3 separate regions of the Homo sapiens genome follow, and regions 1 and 3 are each linked to region 2. The links come from fine-mapping of genetic effects on gene expression. A gene starts in region 2. Each other region holds a variant in brackets. All regions are shown on one strand. Distances are from middle to middle. Region 1 overlaps SLC7A7 (solute carrier family 7 member 7). Region 2 holds the start of SLC7A7 (solute carrier family 7 member 7). Region 3 overlaps SLC7A7 (solute carrier family 7 member 7).

What was found.
Region 1: its variant is fine-mapped to the expression of SLC7A7 in whole blood (INTERVAL, PIP above 0.99).
Region 3: its variant is fine-mapped to the expression of SLC7A7 in whole blood (TOPMed, PIP above 0.99). The same link has a PIP of 0.9 or more in blood mononuclear cells.

What each region holds. Positions count from the first base shown.
Region 1 is chr14:22,779,550-22,785,831 of GRCh38, forward strand. It overlaps SLC7A7 (solute carrier family 7 member 7), which reads right to left. Exons shown (of 10, transcript NM_003982.4): 3 at 377-502. Among named protein-coding and RNA genes, the nearest start is that of OXA1L, 16 kb to the left of the region's middle. RefSeq lists a silencer at 3,888-4,058. The variant G/C (reference allele first, on the strand shown) is at 2,388.
Region 2 is chr14:22,811,680-22,817,961 of GRCh38, forward strand. SLC7A7 (solute carrier family 7 member 7) reads right to left here and starts at 3,756. Exons shown (of 10, transcript NM_003982.4): 1 at 3,641-3,756; 2 at 1,221-1,761. The coding sequence starts at 1,719. RefSeq lists silencers at 1,604-1,663, 1,684-1,743 and enhancers at 3,051-3,557, 3,746-3,845.
Region 3 is chr14:22,786,728-22,793,009 of GRCh38, forward strand. All of the region lies in intron 2 of SLC7A7 (solute carrier family 7 member 7), which reads right to left. Among named protein-coding and RNA genes, the nearest start is that of OXA1L, 23 kb to the left of the region's middle. The variant C/T (reference allele first, on the strand shown) is at 3,763.

The DNA.
Region 1 (6,282 bases), 32 kb before region 2:
ATTCAAGCGATTCTCCTGCCTCAGCCTCCCGAGTAGCTGGGATTACAGGCGCCTGCCACCATGCCCGGCTAATTTTTGTATTTTTAGTCGAGATGGGGTTTCACCATCTTGGCCAGGCTGATCTTGAACTCCTGACCTCATGGATCCACCCGCGATGGCCTCCCAAAGTGCTGGGATTACAAGCACGAGCCACTGCGCCCGGCCCAAGGTACTTAATTCTGCAGGCTGTTTCCTCATCCATAAAATGAGAATAATAATAGTGCCCACCGAATAAGGTTATAGTAAGAAATGAGATAATGCACAAAGAGCACTTAGAGGAGTGCGGCTCACAGAAAATGCTTAAAAAAGATTAGTTGCTACTAATATTATTTCTTACCCTGGCCAAGTCTAACAATGCCTGCAACGATGACCGCGATCAGTGCCAATACTTTAGCATAGGTGAAAATATCTTGTACCAGGGTTCCCCATTTGACATAGGCACAGTTAATGAAGGTTAAGAGACCTGAAAGAAAAATAATACTGATTGGTGACTTACCCTTACCACCCTAGGGCCTTAGACTCCCAAGCAATTTTTCCAGTACCAGTCACCAAGATATATATACCCTTCAGCCAAAGACAGACCCTCTGACCTGCTCTGCACTGGAACCCTCGGGGCCCCAGAATGTCCTCACCATTATCATACAAAGGCCTCTATACTCCCCACCCCCAGCACCTTATATGGGAGACACAAAACAAAGTGACTGCAGATCTGCTTACATAAAAAATACATCCAAATGTCCAATCACAGCAGTGGGAGGCAACTGGGAACTGTACAGGATTAGTGATTGTTCCGGCTCTTGGCTCTGAAAAGTCATGGTCTCTCCCTCCTACCTCCCATTCCCCATGGGCTCCAGGACACAGCACTCTGACTCTGTGGTATTACTGTTAACCTTGAGGAGTTCTGCTGTGACTTATCCAATGCTGAGCCAGCAGGTCAGGCTGTGTGGCCAAGGATTAGGATGAAGGCCAGACTTCCTGCCCACTGCCTGGCAGCTCAGCTGCCTGCTTTTGTGCTTGGAAAGATTCTTGCAGCTAAGAGTGGTTCCTGTAGAATGGGGACAGGGCATTTTTCCTGATGGGACAATAGAGAAGTAAGAGCCACACACATTCCCCCAGTCCTTCTACTCAGAAGTACAGGTTTTAAAAGTACCTTTTATCAGGGTTCTTAACTAGGGCCTCCATGAGGCTCGAAATTCTCTTTCAAAGTGTTATGTCCATATGAATACAGACATACCTAAGAAAAAGTTTCATATCTTTTCTTAGAAAGGGATCATAGCTTTTATCAGAATCTCAAGTCCATTATCCCTCCCCCAACAAAAAAGTTACAATCTACGACTTGAATTTGAATTACTTGAAGAAGTTCAACAAGGGAGGCTCACGCATGCTGTGAGGTTGACCAGTAGCCCCAGAATGTGGCCGAGAAGAAAGTTGGAAAAAAAAATACAGATCTTCCCACTGGTAGCATAGCGAATCGCTTCATTGCTCCCTCCTTCCCAGCTCAGCAACTGGAACACTATAAGGAGGGCTTAACTTTAAAGCCCTTCTCCCAAGGGCTCCAAGGGCAAGGTCAACATCACCCTGCCTTACCAGTCAAGAGAATGAGGCCTAGTACAGTTCTTGCCTACTTCAGGCCACCAACACAGTCAGAAACACCCTCTGAGTTCTCCTGGCAGTGGTGTGGCCTTGGTGTCGCTAGTCCTCCTATTTTGTGGTGTCCTGGCCTCACCACATTCTGGCTACTTCATCCTGAGAAGCAGGGAAGTCTGGCCTCTCAGAACAGCTGCCCCATCTTCTCTCTCTCACCCTCCCTTCCACCACCACCCTCATTCTACTGACTGCCCAAGTTCCTTTCTGCTCTTCCTGAGAAGGCACATTCCTGTCCTATATAAATGCTTGCCTTTCTGCCTAATAAACAACAAACCTTATCACAGGGCTGGGCAAAAATGTACCCACAGCTCCAGGCCACCCCAGTGCTAAGTTAATAATTTAAGACACAAGTGTGCAGCACCCCACAAAATGACCAAAGTGGCTGTATCTTGCCCTCCACAAATCTTTCAAATCTGTCACTCCTCCTCAGCCAGTCACCCATCCTTTACTCCCCACTGGACTCCAGCCTCCAGCCACTCAACAGCTTAGTGCCCCTTCTCCCCAGCTTGTAACCTCTGCCCTTATCCTAGGCTCTGCGGCTGGCTCATAACCACAACATAGCCAGGTTTCCAAGTAGAAACACCAGACACAAAGGATGCTGCCACATTGTCAGGAAAATGGGATCCCCAAATACAAATTTATGATTCCCTGCAGGGTAACCATGAGTCATAACACCAAACTGGAATAAGCTTACAGGACTA[G/C]CTCTAGTTCAGACTCAGAGTCTGAGCTGTGTGCCACAAGGTTCTTCTCAGTTCTGTCCAGGGATGTAGGCAGGGAAAAGGAGGGATAAGCAACCAATTCACCACCTGCTACCACAGCAGATTCTGAAATGGAAATACATGGCTTGTTTATATTTTATTTTATTTATTTTTCTTTTTCTTTTTGAGACAGAGTTTCACCCTTGTTGCCCAGGCTGGAGTGCAATGGCGTGGTCTCGGCTCATGGCAACATCTGCCTCCCGGGTTCAAGCCATTCTCCTGCCTCAACCTCCCAAGTAGCTGGGATTACAGGTGTGCGCCACTATGCCCAGCTAATTTTTATATTTTTAGTAGAGATGAGGTTTCACCATGTTGGCCAGGCTTGTCGCAAACTCCTGACCTGAGGTGATCCACCCACCTCAGCCTCCCAAAGTGCTGGGATTACAAGCATGAGCCACCGCGCCCGGCCTATATTTTATTATTTTTTTTTATTTACTTATTTATTGACTTATTTATTTATTTATTTATTTATTTTATTTATTTTTTGAGACACAGTCTTGCTCTGTCACCCAGGCTGAAGTGCAATGGCATGATCTTGGCTCACTGCAACCCCCACTTCCCAGGTTCAAGCAATTCTCCTGCCTCAGCCTCCCGAGTAGCTGGGACTACAGGTGTGTGCCACCATGCCTGGCTAATTTTTGTATTTTTAGTAGAGATGGGGTTTCACCATACTGGCCAGGCTAATCTCGAACTCCTGAGCTCAGGTGATCCGCCCACCTCGGCCTCCCAAAATGCTGAGATTACAGGCGTGAGCCACCACACCCGTCCCTTTTTGTTTTTTTTTTGGAGATGGGGATCTCACTCTTTCACCCAAGCCAGAGTACAGTGGAGAAATCATAGCTCACTGCAGCATCGAACTCCTGAGCTCAAGGGATCCTCCCAGCTCAGCCACCCTAGTAGCTGGGATCAAAGGTGTGCACCACCATGCCCAGCTAATTTGTTTTAATTTTTTTTTTTTTTGAGATGGAGTCTTGCTGTCACCCAGCCTGGAGTGCAGTGGTGCGATCTCAGCTCACTGCAACCTCTGCCTCCAGGGTTCAAGCAGTTCTCCTGCCTCAGCCTCTTGAGTAGCTAGGACTACAAGTGCCCACCACCACACCTGGCTAATTTTTGTATTTTTAGTAGAGACAGGGTTTCACCATGTTGGTCAGGCTGGTCTCGAACTCCTGACCTTGTGATCTGCCCTCCTCAGCCTCCCAAAGTGCTGGGATTACAGGTGTGAGCCACCGTGCCTGGCTGTTTTAATTTTTTTAGAGACGGGGTCTTGCTATGTGGCCCAGGCTGGTCTCGAACTCCTGGCCTCAGGCAATCCTTCCACCTCAGCTATCTGAGGAGTAACTGGGATTATAGGGAAGAGCCATGGCACCTGGGTGGCTTGTTTACATTTTAATCCCTATTGCTTCTCTACTTCTTTTTTTTTTTTTTTCGAGACAGTCTTGCTCCGTCCCCCAGGCTGGAGTACAGTGGTGCGATCTCAGCTCACTGCAACCTCCGCCTCCTGGGTTCAAGCGGTTCTCCTGCCTCAGCCTCCCGAGTAGCTAGAATTACAGACATTCAACACCATGCCCAGCTAATTTTTGTATTTTTAGTAGAGACAGGGTTTCGCCATGTTAGCCAGACTAGTCTCAAACTCCTGACCTCAGGTGATCCGCCTGCCTCAGCCTCCCAAAGTGCTGGGATTACAGGTGTGAGTCACCGGCGTGGCGTGCCCAGTCTCTTCTCTACTTCTCTATCCATCCATTTGTATCCCTCTCTTTGTCCACCAGTATCCCACCTCCCCCACTCCTGAGCCTGATTTCTCTGACCCACCTTCTAGCCCTGATCTGCTCTCTGTACTGAGCACAGAAGGCTCAGTTTGAATGAGGAAGGGAATCCTACAGAAAGAAACCAGGGAGCAGAGGGAACTGCCTGAAGAGAGCTAGCCCTCCTCTTCCTCAAAGCCTAGCTTCCTCCAGGGCCTCTTGACTGTGGGAGCAGGAAATGGGTATGGCAGGCAGCAGTGCTGACAGGGCTTTTTGTCCCCACCTCAGCGGATACAGCTGACCACTGGCCCCAGAGCCCAGCTAAGTGCACTGCTCTTGAAGTGGAGCCCAACCTCCTGCTTCAGGGCCAAGGACAGGAGGGGACCATGGGGTTAGGATAATATGGAGGCAACTGCAAGTTAACCTCAAGGGCAGAGATGCCCTCCCCTTCTACCTCTAGGGGCAATTCAATCCCCACCCAACACTGGGCCAAGTCTATAAGAGGATAACCTGAAATCACCTTTGACCCTTGACTCGGTGCAGCAGCACTCCTGCTTTGACCCCAGGGGGAGAAAAAAAGAATCTGCAAAGAAGTCACTCGTGGCCGGGTGCAGTGGCTCACGCCTGTAATCCCAGCACTTTGGGAGGCCGAGGTGGACAGATCACGAGGTCAAGAGATCGAGACCATCCTGGCCAACATGGTGAAACCCTGTCTCTACTAAAAATACAAAAATTAGCTGGGCATGGTGGTGTGTGCCTGTAGTCCCATCTACTTGGGAGGCTGAGGCAGGAGAATCACTTGAACCCAGGAGGCGGAGGATGCAGTGAGCCAAGATCACACCACTGCACTCCAGCCTGGTGACAGAGCAAGACTCCATCTCAAAAAAAAAAAAGAGAAGTCACTCCTATAACCATCTAAAAAGATGTTCCTGAATGGATCATCAAACCCAGCCTACATACGGTCCCCGGGAGTAGGAGACTAGTTCTAGTGGTAAGGCCCAGCATCAGCGCTAGAACTAAAAGCCAGAAAGCACCAGACCAGGTGGATCCAGAACAGAACAAAGCTTGCAGGCCCACTCTGGATCAGATGCTCAGGTTTAGTTTAGACACCTAAATGAAACATTTCCTGAAAAAGAACATTAAACCCACAATTCTGTAAGCACTATTACCTTTAAATACACACAATGTAACACACAAAACTTATGATTACAGGCGTGAACCACCATGCCCGGCGTCATTCCATTTTAAAAGTGATCTATAGAGCCAGGCGCGGTGGTTCGCGCCTGTAATCCCAGCACCTTGAGAGACTGAGGCGGGCAGATCACTTGAGGCCAGGAGTTTGAGACCAGTCTGGCCACCATGGCGAAACCCCGTCTCTACTAAAAATATAAATATTAGCTGAGTGTGGTGGCGCATGCCTGTAATCCCAGCTACTTGGAGGCAGAGGTAGGAGAATCATTTGAACCCGGGAGGCAGAAATTGCAGTGAGCCAAGATCACGCCACTGCACTCCAGCCTGGGTGACACAGTGAGACTCCATCTCAAAAAATAAAATAAAATAAAGTGATCTATAGCTCTTCCTTTTACTAAGCCAACAGCGTCTTCCTCCCAGCTTCTACCAGTAGTGCCAGACCCCTCCTCTGTCTCCACACAGAATGAAGCTAAATCCTCTTCCACCCAATGGCCCTTCTTAACATTAAAGATGAATATCACGGCCAGGCGCTGGCTCACGCCTGTAATCCCAGCACTTTGGGAGGCCAAGGCGGGCAGATCATCTGAGGTTGGGAGTTCGAGACCAGCCTGACCAACATGGAGAAACTCCGTCTCTACTAAAAATACAAAAATTGGCCAGGCGTGGTGGCACATGCCTGTAATCCCAGCTAGTCGGGAAGCTGAGGCAGAAGAATCACTTGAACTCGGGAGGTGGAGGTTGCGGTGAACTGAGATCTCGCCATTGCACCAGCCTAGGCAACAAAAGCAAAACTCCATCTCAAAAAAAAAAAAAAAAGCCAGGCGCGGTGGCTCACGCTGTAATCCCAGCACTTTGGGAAGCTGAGGCAGGCGGATCATGAGGTCAGGAGATCAAGACCATCCTGG
Region 2 (6,282 bases):
TCTCCACCAAAAATACAAAAAAATTAGCTAGGCATGGTGGCACATGCCTGTAATCCCAGCTACTAGGGAGGCTGAGGCAGGAGAATCACTTGAACCCAGAAGATGGAGGTTGCAGTGAGCTGAGATTGCACCACTCAAGCCTGGGCGACAGAGTGACTCTATCTCAAAAAAAAAAAAAAAAAAAAAGGAAGAATCCAGCCTACAGAAATACTCATGCAGCTGCAAAAAGATATTCACTGGAGCATTATCTGTAAGACTGAGAAACTGAAACCAACGTACATGGCCATTAACAGAGGACCAGCTAGATAAATAAACTACTATGCATCCTTAAAATTCACATGAAATAATATGAAGCATTTTTTAAAAAGTAGATCTGTAAGTAGAAAAGAATGTCACTGATAATGCTAGAGGAAAAGCACACTGTAGAATTACATGTAGACTAGTATGACCTCATTTTTGTAAAAGAACAAAACTACACCTCTTTTTTTTTTATTTTTATTTTTTTGAGATAGAGTCTCACTCTGTTGCCCAGGCTGGAGTGCAGTGGTGCGATCTTGGCTCACCGCAACCTCTGCCTCCTGGGTTCAAGCGATTCTCCTGCCTCAGCCTCCTGAGTAGCTGGGATTACAGGCACCTGCCACCACACCCAGCTAATTTTTGTATTTTTAGTAGAGATGGGGTTTCACCATGTTGGCCAGGCTAGTCTCGAACTCCTGACCTCAGGTGATCTGCCCACTTCAGCCTCCCAAAGTGCTGGGATTACAGGCATAAGCCACCACACCCTGCCAAAACTACATCTCTTGAAGGAACAAGAAAAAAAAATCAGTGTGCCTGTGGTCCCTGCTACTCAGGAGGCTGAGGCAGGAGGATAGCTTGAGCCTAGAAGTTCGAGGCTGAAGTAAGGTATAATCACACCACTGCACTCCAGTCTGGGTGACAGAGCAAAATACCTGTCTCTTTAAAAAAAAAAAAAAAAAATCAGGAAGAATATGCAAACTGCTAATAGTGCTTACTGTGAGAAGCTGGGGAAAAGGTGAGTGTTTTTGCGATACACTGTGGTACTGTTTGAATTTTCACACAAAGCATACTTTAACTATATATATATATATATATGTTGTCAGAGACATTCCTCTCTATCTCCTTCTTACTCCCAGACTGCACTCACATCCCAGCCTCTGTCCAGCCCTCCACCCACCACCTCCTACCCCAGCCCCACTTACAAATGCAGGCAGCAGCCAGCAGGCGGCTGGCAGCATAAGGGGCGAAGCAGCTCGGGAAGAGAGGCTGTACCATGTAGTTGGCAAAGGTGATGGCAATGATGGCCTGGCTGGTGGGCTCAATGATGAGCAGGGAGGTCCAGAGTCTGATGAAAGCAAGGAATCCTCCAAAGGCCTCCAGGATATAGGCATAGCTGGCCCCAGATTTCTTAATGGTGGTGCCCAGTTCCGCATAACAAAGGGCCCCAAAGACGGAGAAGAGGCCCCCGACAGCCCAGATGACCAGAGAGAGACCAAAGGAGGCACTGTATATGAGCACACCCTTGGGGGAAACAAAGATGCCCGAGCCGATCATGTTCCCCACAATCAGGCACACGCCGTTAAGCAGTGAGATCTCCTTCTTCAGCTTCACCTGCTCCGGCCCTGGGCTGGCCCCATCACCCAAAGGGGAGGTTTCCACCTCAGGCTGGGAGGCCACTTCATACTCAGTGCTGTCAACCATGGTGGAGGAGAGGAAACCCTTCACCAGCTTCCTGGCATTGCCCTTTAAGGAAGAAAGATGATGCTATAGATTAGGTGGTTGGCAATTACATAGAACCTCTACCCGCCTCCAACACAGGGTAATACGGGCAGCTCACCAACCAATGCGGAGACCTCCAAATAACCTTTTCTCCAGCTCACTCATCAAAACAACCCCAACTTGAATATTTGTCTATCTATCTATGTATTTATTTATTTATTGACAGAGTCTCGCTCTGTAGCCCAGGCTGGAGTGCAGTGGTGCAATCTCGGCTCGGCTCACTGCAACCTCAGCCTCCCGGGTTCAAGCGCTTCTCTTGCCTCAGCCTCCCAAGTAGCTGGGATTACAGGCACCTGCCACCACGCGTGGCTAATTTTTTTTTTTTTTTTTTGAGATGGAGTTTTGCTCTTGTTGCCCAGGCTGGAGTGCAATGGCGCGATCTCAGCTCACTGCAACCTCCGCCTCCCGGGTTCAAGTGATTCTCCTGCCTCAGCCTCCCAAGTAGCTGGGATTATAGGCATGCACCACCACACCCAGCTAATTTTGTATTTTTAGTAGAGATGGGGTTTCTCCATGTTGGTCAGGATGGTCTCAAACTCCCGACCTCAGGTTATCCGCCCGCCTCGGCCTCCCAAAGTGCTGGGATTACAGGCGTGAGCCACCTTGCCCAGCCTCCAACTTGAATTTTTAAGAGAAGGCACTCATTCGCCAGAGAGAAAGGATCTGTCTCTCATCATTAGGACATTGCTGCCCACCCGACTCACCAAATAGAGAACTAAATCTTGGGCCGGGCGCTGTGGCTCACATCTGTAAACCCAGCACTTTGGGAGGCCAAGGCGGGCAGATCACCTAAAGTCGGGAGTTCGAGACCAGCCTGACCAACATTTAGAAACCCAGTCTCTACTAAAAATACAAAAATTAGCCATGCGTGGTGGCACATGCCTGTAATCCCAGCTGCTTGGGAGGCTGAGGCAGGAGAATCACTTGAGCCCGGGAGGCAGAGGTTGCGGTAAGCTAAGACTGGGCCATTGCACTCCAGCCTGGGCAACAAGAGCAAAACTCTGTCTCAAAAAAAAAACAAAATCAAAAACAAAACACTAAATGTTGGTTCTCTCTGAGCCTGCTATAATACAAGACAGGCATGGGGGCAGTGTGGCGGCTCCCAGAAAATAACTATAATGGCTTGACCCCGAGTTTTCAGCCTTATCCAAAACCCGTCTTCCCTCCAATTTCAGCTTCAGGGATCACCTGTGCTGAGGTACAACATTAGGAACTGACCCTACCAGCAGCTAATCTGTGGGAGCGTCTCATGACACTGCTCTTTTCCCCAAGGACTCTACGTCTGCCAAAACTAAAGGCTTCAGAAACCTGCTGGAAACCCACAACCATCCTCCTGCCCAAAGAGCATCCCTTAACCCTTAGCTGGAGTCTTCAGCCCTGGCAAAGCCCAAGTAGACCCACTTCACCCTGAAAGAAGACAGGCTATTATCTTTTCCTTGCTTTTCCTTTCCCATTCTCTGGTATTCTAAGCCTCCTGCTATCGATCCCTCACATCAGCATCGTTGAATCACCCAAAAAAGTATGAATGAGAGAAGGGCGATCCAATGTACCATAAAACCTAGGGATGATTGGAGGCAGCTGATGGCCACTCCCTACCCCAGAGTTGCTGCTGGAGAGATATCACCCCGAGCCAAGGCAGGGAGACAGCTGCAGCCAGGCAGCACATGCTGGAAAACACCGAACAGGAGACAGCTGAGAGGAAAATGGGAGAGGCTAGTCAAGCAATGGAGAGATGTTAGGGTGAGAGGCACTCGGGAGAAGAAGCGATTAGACACTGCACAGCAGCAAAGAGGAGGGTTAGCAAGGTAAGTGGAGATGAGAAGAGGGTGGAACGCACACTCACTCCTTGGTCCTGGATATAAGCAGGTTCTCACGGCAGTGTGAGCAGCAGTCAGGGAGAGAAGTGCCTTCCAGGATCTGTGGTCTGATGCTCCTCCTTCCCAGCCAGCAGTAAAAGGGAAGGCCAGACAAATGCCTATGGATTTAAGCAAGAAGGGTGGAGGAGGTGAGGCAGCCCGCAAAGGAAGGAGTGAGGGAGGGGGAAAGGAGTATTAAGCAACCATCTGGGTCCAAGGTTCACTGGCCCTTCACATCTGCAAAAGGGGCAGCTAGGAGCTCTTGGCTCAGCACTTTCTGTGATAAGAAGGTGCTCTCTCAGGAATCTCCTTTGTCAGCTCTGCTCTGGGACCAGGGGCCCAGAAGAAAGGACAGTCAGCTGAGTGCAGTATCTGTAGCCCTGGGGAAGCTGTCCCAGAGCAAGTTAGCTGAGGACAGGACAGTAGCGGGGAAGGAATACACAGCACTCTCTCTCTCTGTGTCCTCCATGCCCCACCCTAGCCTCTCTTCTCTCTCACCCCAAGCATTTAAGAAAGGGAGGAAGGTTGCACAGTGTGACACAAAGGCTTGTTCCCATGCTGAGATTACAGGAAGTGTAAGAGCAGTCTCTACACCATGTGACTGGGTGTTCTAAGAGAACTCTGCACACTTCCCCATGCAAAGAGAGACTGGGGGGTTGCCTCCAAGCCTGGGCCACTGCCCCAAAGTCTGAGCCTCAGACTACTTCAAAAGAAACACAGTCAAGAGATCAAATATCTGACTGCATCCCCACCAGACCCACGTGCCTTTTCATTCTTGACAAAACATACCAAGATCTCTGGGATAAGCATAAATTCCTATAAACGCCTTCCTCAAATATAAGTTGACTCCACTTTCCTAAAAAATATGAGGAAATCAGGCCAGACGCGGTGGCTCACGCCTGTAATCCCAGCACTTTGGGAGGCTGAGGCAGGCGGATCACAAGGTCAGGAGATCAAGACCATCCTGGCTAACACGGTGAAACCCCGTCTCTACTAAAAACACAAAAAAATAAAAATTAGCCGGGCGTGGTGGCGGGCACCTGTAGTCCCAGCTATTCGGGAGGCTGAGGCAGGAGAATGAGGAGAATGGCATGAACCCGGGAGGCGGAGCTTGCAGTGAACCCACATTAGGCCACTGCACTCCAGCCTGGGCAACACAGCAAGACTCCATCTCAAAAAAAAAAAATTAAAAAAGAATATGAGGAAATCAGATTTCACTGAATTCTGTTGGACAGACAGGCCCAGAACAGGCAGAGGAAGCTGAGCACTTTTTGGAAATCACATAGTTTATGCTATCTTTATTATTTACTTTAAATCTGGTATTCTGAGTCTCTTTTACCAACAGAAATAGACCCTATCCATTCTGAAATCCAACTGTCTGTTTCTTCTCCTATCTGTTCTAACCCTCTTTGGTTATTCTACAACCAGAGAATAGAGATCTAAATATCTCTGGGAGACATCTCTACCATACATCCTCCCATTCTAGCTCTTTAAACTTTTAATTTAATCTAGGAGGAGGATTCTGGTGTGAGCGTTCCCAGAGATCATGCTTCTCCCAAGACAGGCTCACAATGATCTGAAATCCTTCTGGAGGAGACTCTCCTTTTCTCCAAAATGCTCCTGTAATAATAATTGCTATCACTTATTGAGCACTTACTGGGCCAGACACACTGCTAAGGACTTAAGCACATTATCTCATGGAACCTCCAGAGCTCATATACTCTTAATCACACAAGTATACTATCTCTCCATCTCCCCATCCCCCTGGCCTGCCTTAGTCTCTAGGCCTTCCTTTTATTTTTTTTTTTTTTTATTTATTTTCTTTTTTTGAGACAGAGTCTCACTCTGTCCCCCAGGCTGGAGTGCAGTGGCACGATCTTGACTCACTGCAACCTCCACCACCTCCTGGTTCAAGCAATTCTCATGCATCAGCCTCCTGAGTAACTAGGATTACACCTGGCTAATTTTTGTGTTTTTATTTCGGTATTTTTATTTTATTTTATTTTATTTTATTTTATTTATTTTGAGACAGACACTTACTCTGTCGCCCAGGCTGGAGTGCAGTGGTGCAATCTCGGCTCACTGCAACCTCCACCTACTGGGTTCAAGCAATTCTCCTGCCTCAGCCTCCCGAGTAGCTGGGATTACAGGTGCACACCACCACGCCCAGCTAATCTTTTTTGTTTTTAGTAGAGTCGGGGTTTCACCACATTGACCAGGATGGTCTTAAACTCCTAAACTCAGGCAATCCGCCCACCTCGGCCTCCCAAAGTGCTAGGATTACAGGCATGAGCCATTGTGCCCAGCCTAATTTTTGTATTTCTAGTAGAGACGAGGTTTTGCCATGTTGGCCAGGCCGGTCTTGAACTCCTGGCCTCAACTGATCCACCTGCTTCTGCCTCCCAAAGTGATGGGATTACAGGCGTGAGCCACCGATGCCACCTTAGACCTTGCTTTTGGACAGGAATTATCTACATGAATTACCTGGGGGAAGATGTAAGCAGACTAGATTAAAAAGAAAGAAAGCCTCTGTCATCCTTCAGTCTATAGCCTAGACGAAAGGCTCCAACAAAGTTTGTTAATCTCCTTCCTGGCTGCCCCTCCCCTTTCTCATTCTTTGCAGGGATAA
Region 3 (6,282 bases), 25 kb before region 2:
GTTCAAGACCAGCCTGGGCAACATTGTGAGAACACATCTCCACAAAACATTTTTTTTAGTTAGCCAGACATGGTGGCACACACCTGTGGTCCCAGCTACTTGGGAGGTTGAGGCAGGGGGATCGCTTGAGCCCAAGTGGTCAAGGCTGCAGGGAGCTGTGATCGCACCACTGCACTGCAGCCTGGGCAACACAGTAAGATCCTTTCTCCAAAACAAAAAAAGTGATTTTTTCCCCCCAGATACAGGACTTCATATTTAGTCTTAGTGACTTTCCTCTGAGTTTTTATGCATTATTCTTATATGATATGGGATTTTTCCTTCTTCATTTTATTAGTTCAAATCCCTTCTTTAATTTTGTGAAATCTGCAAATTTGATCAGCATACCTCCTGAGTCTTCACTGAAGTCACCCTAAAAATGTTGACTAGGGCCGGGCGCAGTGGCTCACGCCTGTAATACCAGTACTTTGGGAGACCGAGGAGGGAGGATCACCTGAGGTCAGGAGTTTGAGACCAGGTTGGCCAACATAGTGAAACCCCGTCTCTACTAAAAGAACAAAAATTATCCGGGTGTGGTGGTGGGCACCTGTAGTCCCAGCTACTCGGGAGGCTGAGGCAGGAGAATCGCTTGAACCCAGGAGGCGGAGGTTGCAGTGAGCCAAGATTACACCACTACACTCCAGCCTGGGCGACAGAGTGAGACTCCGTCTCAAAATAAATAAATAAATAAATAAATGTTGACATGGGCTGGCAGCAGTGGCTCACGCCTGTAATCCCAACACTTTGGGAGGCTGAGGCAGGCAGATCACTTGAGGCCAGGAGTTCGAGACCAGCCTGGCAATATGGCAAAACCCCATCTCTACTAAAAGGAAAATGCAAAAATTAGCAGGGTGTGATGGCACACGCCTGTGGTCCCAGCTACTCAGGAGGCTGAGACATGGGAATTGTTTGAGCCTAGGAGGCAGAGGTTGCACTGAGCCAAGATTGTGCCACTGCACTCCAGCCTAGGTGACAGAGCAACACTCTGTCTCAAAAAAAATTTTTTTAATAAAAAAATTAAAATGTTAGGCCGGGCACGGTGGCTCACGCCTGTAATCCCAGCACTTTGGGAGGCCGAGGCAGGCAGATCACAAGGTCAGGAGATCGAGACCATCCTGGCTAACACAATGAAACCCCATCTCTACTAAAAATACAAAAAGTTAGCCGGGCGTGGTGGCGGGTGCCTGTAGTCCCAGCTACTCGGGAGGCTGAGGCAGGAGAATGGCGTGAACCCGGGAGGCGGCGGTTGCAGTGAGCCGAGATCGCGCCACCGCACTCCAGCCTGGGTGACAGAGCGAGAGTTCGTCTCAAAAAAAAAAAAATTAAAATGTTGACTAAGATCAACAGAGCTGTATAGTCTATCACTGTAGACCTTTCTGTATTTGTCATTATTCCACAATGTTATTCAGCCAACTAAGAATCTACCAAACTTTATTTTTATCTAGTCTACCTTGTCAACAAGAATATCATGAGAATTTGCCACGAACCTCTCCGAAATCTGCATACACATGCCTCTGCTCTAACAATCTAATGATGCTATCAAACAATTCAAATCAAATTAGTATATATTTATGTAGAATATTCATAGTTACACCCTTGCAGTAGTCAAAAACTAGAAACAACCCAAATGCCCAGCAACAGTAGATTGAATAAATACTAAACAGCACTAAGAATAAACAATCTGTAATCCTAGCACGTTGGGAGGCCAAGGCGGGCAGATCACAAAGTCAGGAGTTTGAGATCAGCCTGGCCAACATGGTGAAACCCCCGTCTCTACTAAAAATACAAAAATTAGCTGGGCGTGGTGGCGGGCACCTGTCATCCCAGCTACTCAGGAGGCTGAGGCAGGAGAATCGCTTGAACCCGGGAGGTGGAGGTTGCAGTGAGCCAAGATCCTACCACTGCACTCCAGCCCGGGCGACAGAGTGAGACTCTGTCTGGGAAAAAAAAAAAAAAAAAGTGAACAATCTACGACTACAGACAAAAATACAGAAGAATCTCAAACATAATAAGCAAGCCAGATGCAAAAGTGTACATATAGATTATATCCATTTACATAAAATCAGAGAAAACTAATCAATGCTACTAGAAGTCAGAATAGTGATTTCCCTTTGTGTGGGGTGGAGAGGCAGGGACTGGGAAGAGCATAAGAAGGGCTCAAGGGTGCTAGTTACACATGTGCTCAACTAGTGACAATTCATTAAGCCATAAACTTATGAGATTGCACTGTTCCTTCTGTATATTATATTTGAATAAAAAAATTAAAATTGAACCAAAAAGTGAGGTTAGCAGAGTATGGCTTGTTCTTAGTGAATTCATACACGTTACTAATGATTTCCCACCCTTCTGCTCGTACTTCACTAACCAGATTTAACTTACAAGCCTAGAATTTGGGCAAGAATCCACCTTAAGTTATCACTTCAGAGTGCTGCTCATCCACCTCCGGTGGAAAGCTGGGCTATCACTTGTGGTAGGTAGACTAATGGCCCCCCAAAGATGTCCACCCCCTAATCCCTGGAACCTGTGAGCCATGTTATATTGCATGGCAAGGGAGAATTAAAGTTGCAGATAGAGGCCAGGCGCAGTGGCTCATGCCTGTAATCCCAGCACTTTAGGAGGCCAAGGCGGGCAGATCACCTGAGGTCAGGAATTCTAACCAACATGAGTCAGCCTAACCAACACGGTGAAACCCCGTCTCTACTAAAAATACAAAAAATAGCTGGGTGTGGTGGTGGGTGCCTATAATCCCAGCTACTCAGGAGGCTGAGGCAGGAGAATTGCTTGAACCCAGGAGGCGGAGGTTGCAGTGAGCCAAGATCACACCACTGCACTTCAGCCTGGGCAACAGAGCAAGACTCTGGCTCAAAAAAAAAAAAAAAAAAGAAAAAAGTTGCAGACAGAATGAAGATTGCTAATCAAGTGACAAAACAGGGAAATCATTCTGTATTCTCTGGGTGGGCCCAATGTAATCACAAAAGTTCTTAAAGATGAAAGAGGGAGGCAGAAAGGTCAATGTCAGAGTAGTACAATATGAGAAAGACTCTCCCAGTTACTGCTGACTTTGAAAATGGAAGGGTCCATGAGACTCTAGAAGCTGGGAAAGGCAAGAAGATGGATCCTCTCCTTAAGCCTCCAGAAAGAAACACAGTGCTACTTCATATTAGCCCAGTGAGACCCATTTCAGACTTCTGACCTCCAGAATTATGAGATGATAAATTTGTGTTGTTTTCAGCCACTCAATTGGTGGTAACTTGTTAGAGAAGCAATAGAAAACTCATATGTTGGCTGGGCACAGTGGCTCGCTCCTGTAATTCCAGCACTTTGGGAGGCCAGGGTGGGCTGATCCCTTGAGCTCAGGAGTTTGAAACCAGCCTGGGCAACATAGAGAAACCCTGATTCTACAAAAAATACAAAAATTAGCTGGGCCTGGTGGCGTGCACCTGTAGTCTCAACTACTCAGGAGGCTAAGGTGGGAGAATTGCTTGAGCCTGGGGAGGTCAAGGCTGCAGTGATCCTTGATTGCACCACTGCATTCCAGCCTGGGTGACAGAGCAAGACTGTCTCAAAAAAAAAAAAAAAAAAAAAAAAAAAACCTAACTGCAGGCAGAAAACTGGAAGTAGCACTGGGTGGTACTATTCATTACATTTGTTGAAAAATGGAGAAAGGGGAAGTGAAACCCTTGACAGCTCACTGGATCTTGGTGTACTGAAATTTCCCTCTCACTG[C/T]AATCAAAAGAATCTAAATGTGACCTTATGCAAAGAAGGCAGGCATCCCTTATGATAGCAGATCCTCAAACAAGTATGTACCTCTCTCTTTAATGTACTACATGAATCCCAGCTCTTCTAGCAAATCATCATTTTTGAACAAAGTATACTCTTTCATTATCATATTCTAATCAAATATCGCTGATGCCTATGAAATTGTTTCCTCCTTTCAGTAAAAGGTCAAATACGGGCCGGGCACAGTGGCTCATGCCTGTAATCCCAGCACTTTGGGAGGCGGAGGCAGACGAATCACGAGTTCAAGAGATTGAGACCATCCTGGCCAACATGGTGAAACCCCGTCTCTACTAAAAATACAAAAATTAGCTGGGTGTGGTGGTGTGCGCCTGTAGTCCCAGCTACTGGGGAGGCTGAGGCAGGAGAATCACTTGAGCCCAGGAGGCGGAGGTTGCAGTGAGCTAAGATCGCGCCACTGCACTCCAGCCTGGTGACAGAGCGAGACTCCGTCTCACAAAAAAAAAAAAAAAAGGTCAAATACGTTTATTAGCCTTACTTGTAATATTTGTAGATAAGAGTTCAAAAGCATCATTTCTGATCTTCCATCCCATTTTCTCCAAATGCGTTACTGAGCAACTCCTCTCTGCCTTTATTCTCTGCTATGTAGTCTCCAAAATACCCAGATTTATACTTTTATCTAGGCATTTTTCTCCTTGCCTCTAAAATTTCCATTCTAAAGCCTTATTATACACATCTCTCCCAATCCCTATAAACCTCCTCTATCCCTTACCAGGAGTTTATCTTTCTGGTATCTTAGAATCTTAGAATTTACGGTTAGGAACTCTGTTCTGTGTTCTTTTTTCTTTCACATACACAGCCTTCAGCTGACAAAGAGACGAAAATTCCACCTGCCACTCAGTTTGCTACTTTAAACTTCACGTCACCAGTGAGACATCTCAGCTATCTTCTGACTGGTGACATCATTCATCCCACAGCAATTAGCAGAAGGATAGCAGTCCCTAGGCTTAATTGGTGTGAGCAAGCTCTTGGTCACATGTTGCTCAGAAAAACTGCACATTTCTAGGTTAGGCTGGGTCTGTGTATAGTCAGATGCACACTATTCCTGGGGGAAGGCCAAACCCCACAACTGGCATACTCAGGCCTGCTAATACCCTGGTGTCTCCAAAATACTCTACCACTGCTGTTTCCTCAGAAGGTCCAGATATAAGCTCTCTGGAAACGCCTCATATCTGTTACCTAAACCCAGAGATTTCAAGTCTCTTCTTCCTTTTCTTTGCTGCATCCCCATTTGTTTTGTCTAATGTTGGTTTGGGAAAATCTCTACACCTTTTTTTTTTTTTTTTTAATTGAGATGGAGTCTCGCTCTGTCGCCCAGGCTGGAGTGCAGTGGCGCCATCTCGGCTCACTGCAAGCTCCGCCTCCTGGGTTCACGCCATTCTCCTGCCTCAGCCTCCCGAGTAGCTGGGACTACGGGCGTCCGCCACCACGTCCGGCTAATTTTTTTGTACTCTTAGTACAGACGGGGTTTCACCATGTTAGCCAGGATGGTCTCAATTTCCTGACCCCGTGATCCACCCGCCTTGGCCTCCCAAAGTGCTGGGATTACAGGCTTGAGCCACCGCGCCCGGCCTGGAAACTCTCTACACCTTGAAATCACAATTTCACCCTGGCTTCTTTGATACATTATTTCTTCCACTCTCCCTAGGTGCTGTTATTTCTCTCAGATAGCAGATGGCCTTCAAATTATTTTACCTTTCAGACTACAGAAACCTTTTACTCCAGGTGCAGTGGCTCATGCCTATAATCCCAGCACTTTGGAAGGCCAAGACGTGAGGATCACTTGAGGCCAGGAGTTGGAGACCAGCCTGGGCAGCATAGCAAGACCCTTTCTCTACAAAAAAATTACAAATTAGCTGGACTTGGTGGTGCACACTGATGGTCCTAGCTACTTGGAAGGCTGAGGTGGGAAGGTCACTTGAGTGCAGGATTGAGCCCATAACCATGCTACTGCACACCAGCCTGGGCAACAAAGCAAGACTTCGTCTCAGAAAATAAAATAACATTTTTGACCAGGCGTGGTGGTGGCTCACACCTGTAATCCCAGCATTTTGGGAAGCCGAAGTGGGCGGATCACCTGAGGTCAAGCGTTCATGACCAGCCTGACCAACATGGCAAAACCCCGTCTCTACTAAAAATACAAAAATTAGCCAGCCGTGGTGGCGCACGCCTGTAATCCTAGCTACCTGGGAGTCTGAGAGAGGAGAATCATTTTGAACCCAGGAGGCGGAGGTTGCAGTGAGCCGAGATTGCACCACTGCACTCCAGCCTGGATGATAGTGTGAGGCCCCGTCTCAAAGAAAGAAAGAGAGAGAGAGAGAGAGAGAGAGAGAGAAAGGAAAAGAAAAGAAAAATATCTTTTTTTTTTTTTTAAAGACAGAGTCTCGCTCTGTCGCCCAGGCTGGAGTGCAGTGGTGCGATCTTGGCTCACTGCAACCTCCGCCTCCC